Homo sapiens: one gene and its partner. The protein of the gene in region 1 purifies or fractionates together with the protein of each later gene. This does not show direct contact. Each region holds a gene or a part of one and is shown in the gene's direction. Other genes may lie near its edges.

What was found.
Region 2: the proteins of RCC2 (region 1) and PAK1IP1 purify together in Homo sapiens (affinity purification with mass spectrometry, with the first as the bait; one study listed by BioGRID). This does not show direct contact.

What each region holds. Positions count from the first base shown.
Region 1 is NC_000001.11:17,419,081-17,422,891, reverse strand, and holds part of RCC2 (protein RCC2), read left to right. Parts: intron 1-55; coding exon 56-187; intron 188-600; coding exon 601-689; intron 690-2,063; coding exon 2,064-2,178; intron 2,179-3,811. UniProt on the Homo sapiens protein: Multifunctional protein that may affect its functions by regulating the activity of small GTPases, such as RAC1 and RALA. Required for normal progress through the cell cycle, both during interphase and during mitosis.
Region 2 is NC_000006.12:10,697,885-10,701,695, forward strand, and holds part of PAK1IP1 (p21-activated protein kinase-interacting protein 1), read left to right. Parts: intron 1-3,811. UniProt on the Homo sapiens protein: Negatively regulates the PAK1 kinase. PAK1 is a member of the PAK kinase family, which has been shown to play a positive role in the regulation of signaling pathways involving MAPK8 and RELA.

The sequences.
Region 1 (3,811 bases):
TGGTGCCGCCTGGACCACCCTCTCTCTTTTCTACTTTCTCTCATGTGATCTGCAGGTCGAAATGAGAAGGGGCAGCTGGGACATGGTGACACCAAGAGAGTAGAAGCCCCTAGACTCATCGAGGGTCTTAGCCACGAAGTGATTGTGTCTGCAGCATGTGGGCGGAACCACACCTTGGCCTTGACGGGTAAGGAGGTGGCTGCTGGTGTCTCCTCTCAGTTTGGCAAGAGGCCAGGTGGTCTGCCTTGGGGATGGGGCGTGGGGTGGTGGAGTTCCCCTTGTGACTCTTGGTCAGGATCAGAAAGAGGCCCTGAGAACCTTGGCATGGAGTGGCTTCTTGAGGGCATTGGGAGCCTCCCCAGTGGCCATAGGAGGCCCATCTGGGAGTAGGAGACGCTGCCCTCTGTTTCTCTGCACACCCAGTTTCTGATGTGAAATGGCTTTGCTGTGAAGCGTCTGCACTGCCAGCTTTTGGGCAGTCTCACTTGCCTTCTGCCTGGCAAATGAGCTGTTTTTATTATTTTGATGCCTTTGATTCTAAATCTAGTTCAAAACATTCACCATTATCTTCCCTTTTGTGATATTTTTCCTTTCTTCCAGAAACGGGCTCCGTGTTTGCGTTTGGGGAAAACAAGATGGGGCAGCTGGGCCTTGGCAACCAGACAGACGCTGTTCCCAGCCCCGCGCAGGTGACCCCTCCTCAGCTCCGGCTCCATGGCTTTTTGTTTCTCTTTACTTTTGTGTTTGATTTTCTAAGGTGGGGTCTCCGTTTGAGTTAATTTACCCCTTGTAAAAACAGGGTCTGGATGTTTAGTTACATGCTGTAGAGTTTTTTTGTTTGTTTTTTTGTTTTTTGTTTTTTTTTGAGAACGGAGTTTCACTCTTTTTGCCCAGGCTGGAGTGCAATGGCGCAATCTCGGCTCACTGCAACCTCCGCCTCCCGGGTTCAAGTGATTCCCCGGCCTCAGCCTCTGGAGTAGCTGGGATTACAGGCATGTGCCACCACACCTGGCTAATTTTGTATTTTTAGTAGAGACGGGGTTTCTCCATGTTGGTCAGGCTGGTCTGGAACTCCTGACCTCAGGTGATCCACCCACCTCGGCCTCCCAAAGTACTGGGATTACAGGTGTGAGCCACTGCACACAGCCTTGCTATAGTTTTTAAAACAGGCTTAGTTTGTGGTCGGGTTGAAAACCATCCTGAAAACATTTTGTTTCCAAATGGAGAAATCTGTTAGAAATGCCTTGTCGTAAGCCTGTTCTGTTCCAAAGAAAGTGAGTGATGTTATATGGATGTAATTGTACTTCCCCCAAATACTTTGTTTTGACCTTGTATAAAGTCACCAGCCAGATGCTTAGAATACAAATACGAGATAGGCAGTCTTTTTTTTTTGGAGGGGAGACAGAGTCTCGCTCTGTTGCCAGGCTAGAGTGCAGTGGCGCGATCTCAGCTCACTGCAACCTCTGCCTCCCGGATTCAAGCGATTCTCCTGCCTCAGCCTCCCGAGTAGCTGGGACTACAGGCATGCTCCACCACGCCTGGCTAATTTTTGTATTTTTAGTAGAGATGGGGTTTCACCATGTTGGCCAGGATGGTCTCCATCTCTTGACTTCCTGATCTGCCTGCCTCGGCCTCCCAAAGTGCTGGGTGTGAGCCACCGCGCCCAGGAGATAGGCAGTCTTTTTTTTTCTAAGAAACTTGAGTTGGAGGGGTGAGATTTATACCTTAAAAACAAACTACTACTAAAGGCAGAAGAATGCTAAGTGCCTAATTAGTGGTCTAGGTGATGAAGGAAGGGAGGGACTTGGTTTTATTGATCTTAAAGAGACAGTGGCTAGGCTTTGAACTGCTCTGTGCTGGGAGGGTGGGGGTCTGAGGGTGCTTCTTTACATATCTTCTAAGCTTTGTGTTCTAGAAATGCCTTCAGCTTTTGCCTTCAGAATTACTGAGTTTATTAAACTTCCGTTTGTAACCTAGTAATTGTTTCCCACCAACATGCAGAGAGGTAGAGGCTTTTTATCAGTCTTTAAAAAAAATGAAAGTCTCCTTTCTTGTCTTTTCAGATAATGTACAACGGCCAGCCAATTACCAAAATGGCCTGTGGGGCTGAATTCAGTATGATAATGGACTGCAAAGGAAACCTCTATTCCTTTGGGTGCCCTGAATATGGTCAGCTGGGTATGGAAGTACATTTTTTAAAAGCTCTGTAATCTAACTGTATATATTCAGAACTAGAGATCAGTGTGGGGCTGCACACACGTGTTAGAAATGTGGGTAATTGATCTCAGATAATAGCCTTTGTCCGTTAAGTGGATCTCACGTTCAGCAGAACAGCGCGTCCTCATTCACAGGATTATGGAGTATTGCAACACTGCCTCAATGGAAAAGTTGGGACTGGAGTCCTACAAAAGATTTCTTTTTTTCTGATTTGGGAATTCATTTATATAAAGGGATTTCAAAGTTAAAAAAAAATCAGACCACCTTCATTCAATTTCACATTTAAAGATTATGCCTTTATTGAAAATGAGAAAATTACGGAAAATGAACGTTGTTCTGGAAACCCTGGCCTGGGCGATTATTTCGGGTTGCCACGTGAGGAGCCCTGGTGGACCCCCTCCCCGTGCGTCATCCCTAGCCAGAATCTAGTTGTCCAGAAACTTGTTTCTTCGATCTCATTGGTGGAAAAGGAGAATTCAGGCATCAGTTCTCAGTTAGTGGGGGGAGTGTCTTCCGACCTGATGGTCTCCATTCTCCTTCCCATCGGACCCTAAGTGCGGTTCCCTGAAGTGCGCTTCCCGGTTGTGGCTCTGCCTCCACTCCAGCCCCTCTGGGGAGGCCTCCGCGAGGTGTGGCGCGGGCGCCCTCTGCTGGCCGCGCGCGCTCCTGCAGCCGCAGCGCCTGGCAGATGGAAAAGGTAAAAATAGCGCCGAGCCCGCTGGCCTTAGCCTCGGGGAACAGTGACTTTGTGAAACTAAATATACTTCAAGTCAGAAGTGAATAAGAGAGAACAGCCCCTTACGCACATTTCACATTTCGCGTTGGTTGCCGTGGTGGAGCCCGAGACAGTTGGAGAGCGGTTTCCATGGCCACAGCCCTGCTGCGGTGCCCAGCAGCGGTCCGCTTCCTGCCACGTGCGCGCTCCTGCTGCCTTGGCCTCCCCTCTGCACCCCGGCAAGTCGATTTTCCGTCAGGAAGCATGACATGCTGTTGGTGATAAAAACGGCTCACTTTCATGGAGCAGTGACTGTGTGTGCCAGGCACCATGTAAGCACTTTGTACAAATTCGCAGGTGCTCAGTTACACTCAACTTGCAGGTAGTTTGGAAATCGGCTTGATTTGTAGCTACAGAATCGCTTATTCTCAGCGTATTACTTGCTTTAAGGCAGGTGTTTGTTTCGTTGTCCAAATCCAGATAGATCACTTTTAGAATGAACCTAAATCCGACTATGGCCGTGTCTCATCCACACACACTCATGCCTTGTGCCCCCTTTTTTGCAGTGCACTGAACTGGGCTGGGCAACGCCAAGATAAGAAAGACGGAGTCTCCCTCTGTCACCCGGGATGGAGTGCAGTGGTGTGATCTCAGTTCACTGCAACCTCCACCTCCTTGGTTCAAGCAATTCTCCTGCCTCGGTCTCCCAAGTAGTTGGGACTACAGGCGCCCGCTGCCACACCCAGCTAACTTTTTTTTGTATTTTTAGTAGAGACGGGGTTTCACCATGTTGACCAGGCTGGTCTCAAACGCTTGATCTCAAGTGATCTACCCGCCTCGGCCTCCCAAAGTGTTGGGATTACAGGCATGAGCCACCGT
Region 2 (3,811 bases), on another chromosome or scaffold:
TGTCTCAAAAAAAAAAAAAAAAGGTTTCTTGCTCTGGGTTGGCTTACGGTCTGTATTGGGAGACAGAAAGGAGGCATTTAACCCAGTCAGAGTGAGGTTTTCACTGAAACCTTCCTTAAAATGACATCTGAATTATCTTAAAAGAGAAATGTCAGTTATTGGGCAGGTAAAGTTTGCAAGGAGGGAGAAAGGACATTCCAGGCAGAGCCGGCAGTGTGAGGAGCACAAGTAGTAGCATCATAGCAATATCTGACTTTATTGAGGGCATATTATGTACCCCTCTGTGTGCCAAGAAAGTAGAAGAGAACACCTAGTTTCAAAGATGTAGCGTCACAGCAATATCTGACTTTATTGAGGGCATATTATGTACCCCTCTGTGTGCCAAGAAAGTAGAAGAGAACACCTAGTTTCAAAGATGTAGCGTCATAGCAATATCTGACTTTATTGAGGGCATATTATGTACCCCTCTGTGTGCCAAGAAAGTAGAAGAGAACACCTAGTTTCAAAGATGTTACTTGACTTGCCGAAGGTCTCAAACACTGGAACTAGAACTTGAACCTGGGCCTAGAGCCCATGCTTTTGACCACTGGTGTTCATAGGGAACCGTAAGCAGTTCCGGATTATGAGAAGGTTAAATTGGGAGTTTGAGGGGCTAGAGAAGTAGATGGGACCAGATCCTGGAGTCCTTGAGAGAGCCAGTTAGAGACTGAATTGGGAGGGAGGGAGGGAGCAAGCTAGCAAATGAATGATGTGGGCTTGAGGAAAGTACTGCCAGTTTGTATCGGAGGGGTGCTGACTGAGAACCCCAACAGAAGGACTGATGAAGGCCTGCCCCATTGGAATTGGCAGCTACGGATTGAGTAACATCAGTTTGCAAGATTTTCTGAGTTTATTCAGTAATAAGCCACAGACATTTCCCTAGAGAGAGGAAGGTTACTTGGTGTGTGCGGTAGAAGGATTGAGTTACAAGAGAATTAAGAATTTTGGTGAAGGAGTGGATTAGGTTGTCAACATAGAGAAAATGTGTTGTCAAAGGCCAGGCGCGGTGGCTCGCGCCTGTAATCCCAGCACTTTGGGAGGCCGAGGTGGGCCGAGCGTGAGGTCAGGAGATTGAGACCATCCTGGCTAACAAGGAGAAACCCCGTCTCTACGAAAAATACATAACCTTAGCTGGGCATGGTGGCACGTACCTGTAGTCCCAGCTACTTAGGAGGCTGAGGCAGGAGAATCGCTTGAACCTGGGGAGGCAGAGTGTGCAGTGAGCTGAGACTGTGCCACTGCACTCTAGCCTAGGCGACAGAGCGAGACTCTGTCTCAAAAAAAAAAAAAAAAAAAAAAGAGGAAAAGAAAAGAAAATGTGTTGTCAAGGGCCTGGAGATCTCTGAAATACAAAAGCAGGTGGAGTGTGAGTGCAGAGAGGCATGAAAGGGATGGGAAGATGTGAGCTTGTGGTCAGCAAATAGCTTCCTAGAGGTCAAGAGTTCTAACGTGGAACAGCTCTATGTGGTAACGATGCCCAGGCTGTGGGTGTAGGGGACTGAAATGCAGGGGAGGCAAAGGTCACTGGAGTTGAAGTCAAGAAGTAGTACTACAGTTCCCGGCTTGTGGTTTGGTTTTCCACACTGGTGGTCAAGGTACCCAGGATAGTGGCAGAATCAAGGGAGAGAAAGACTGAACAGGTAAATTTTTTTCTTCAGTACCAAACATTTTATGCTGTTTTTGTTGCATTTTCCCAGGGGACAGAGAATGAGGAGTAACTCAGCCAAGAAAGTTGGTTTTCTGCAAAGAAAGGCAGATAAAATGGTGCCCTTTTTCCTACCCAATCTTACATGTATTTCAGAGGATCCACACCAGGCATTGGTTTCCAGCAGTAAATTTGCAGCGATAAATGGCTTCCTTCTATTAGGTGTTCCCTTAGTTTATTCAGACTGCTATAACAAAATACCTTAGACTGAATAATTTATCAATAATAGAGATTTATTTCTCACAGTTGTAGAGGCTGGGAAGTCTAAGATTAAGGCACCAGCAGATTTTCTTGTCTCGTAAGGACTGGCTCTCTGTTGCTGTGTCCTCATGGTAGAAGGGCAAAGCAGATCCCTGCACAATTCTGTAAGGTCAAGCTTGAGAGTTGGAGCCAGTTTAAAAAAAGCAAACAAACAAACGAAAAAAACAACTTTTTTTTTGGCGGGGGCGGGGGGGCTTCTCGCTCTGTCACCCAGGCTGGAGTGCAGTGGCGCGATCTCGGCTCACTGCAGCTTCTGCCTCCTGGGTTTAAGCGATTCTCCTGCCTCAGCCTCCCAGGTAGCTTGGATTATAGGTGCCTGCCACCACGCCCAGCTAATTTTTGTATTTTTAGTAGAGACGGGTCTAACCATGTTGGCCAAGCTGGTCTTGAACTCTTGACCTCAAGTGATCCGCCCGCCTCAGCCTCCCAAAGTGCTGGGATTACAGGCGTGAGCCACCGCGCCCTGCCAAAAAAAACAACTTTTATAATGTCGCCAGTCCTCTAATCCCGTTCATGAGGGTTTGCCCTTATGACTTAGTCACCATCACCTCCTAAAGGTCTCACCTCTTAAACTATCACATTGGCAACTAAGTTTCAGCAAATGAATTTTGGGGGACACTTTCACACATGGCAGACTGTCCATTGCTGCTTTAACAGCTGTCTTGCTCTTCATCAGAAGCTGAGCTTTGAGTGATTCAAATATACATTCTTTTTTTCTCTATCTCCTAGTCCTAGTTTGTTACAAAGAAGGCTTCTCTCTCAGGTTTGGAAGAAATAAGTTAAATTTGATCTGCCCAAACCCATTAGTACAAGTGTTCAACAATAAGAAAAGGAATTACATAGAAGGAGTTTAGATTGGGGGGTGAATGAAGTAGGGCTCTTGGTTTCTTGGTTTCCTTTATTTCTTGTATAAATCCTTTTTTTCTTTTTTCTTTTTTTCCTTCAACTTTTAAGTTCAGGGGTACACATGCAGGATGTGCAGGTTTGTTACGTAGGTAAACGTCCCATGGTGGTTTGCTTTACAGATCATCCCATCACCTAGGTATTAAGCCCAGCATCCATTAGCTGTTCTTTCTAATGCTCTCCTTCCCGCAACCCTTCCCCTCCCACAGGCCCCAGTGTGTGTTGTTTTTCCCCTGTGTGAGAACATGTGGTGTTTGGTTTTCTTTTTCTTTTCTTTTCTATTTCTTTCTTTCCTTCTTTTTTGAGATGCAGTCTTTCTCTGTCACCCAGGCTGGAGTGCAGTGGCAGAGCTCGGCTCACTGCAACCTCCATCTCCCGGGTTCAAGCGATTCTTGTGCCTCAGCCTCCTGAGTAGCTGGGACTACAGGCACACACCACCACATCCAGCTAATTTTTGTATTTTCAGTAGAGACGGGGTTTCGCCATGTTGGCCAGGCTGGTATTGAACTCCTGACCTCAAGTGATCTGCCTGTCTCGGTCTCCCAAAGTGCTGGGATTACAGGCATGAGCCACCTCGCCTAGCCAGTGTTTAATTTTCTCTTCCTGCATTAGTTTGCTGGGGATAATGGCTTCCAACTCCATCCACATCCCTGCAAAGGACATGATCTCATTCCTTTTTATGGGTGCATAAATCCTATTTTTCTAAGAGTTGCTAATAGATAAGCTTTTTTCTAGGGAAGCAAATGTGGGAAACCAAACTTTCCAAAGTGAGAAATAGGATAATAGGGAGAGGAAAATATGAACAAATGAATGAGAAGTGTGTGGAAATGGATCAAAACAGATCTGAGTGATAAGGATTGGATTGTGGCTGATTGGGTAGCTAATTCACTGTTTAGAAAGTGG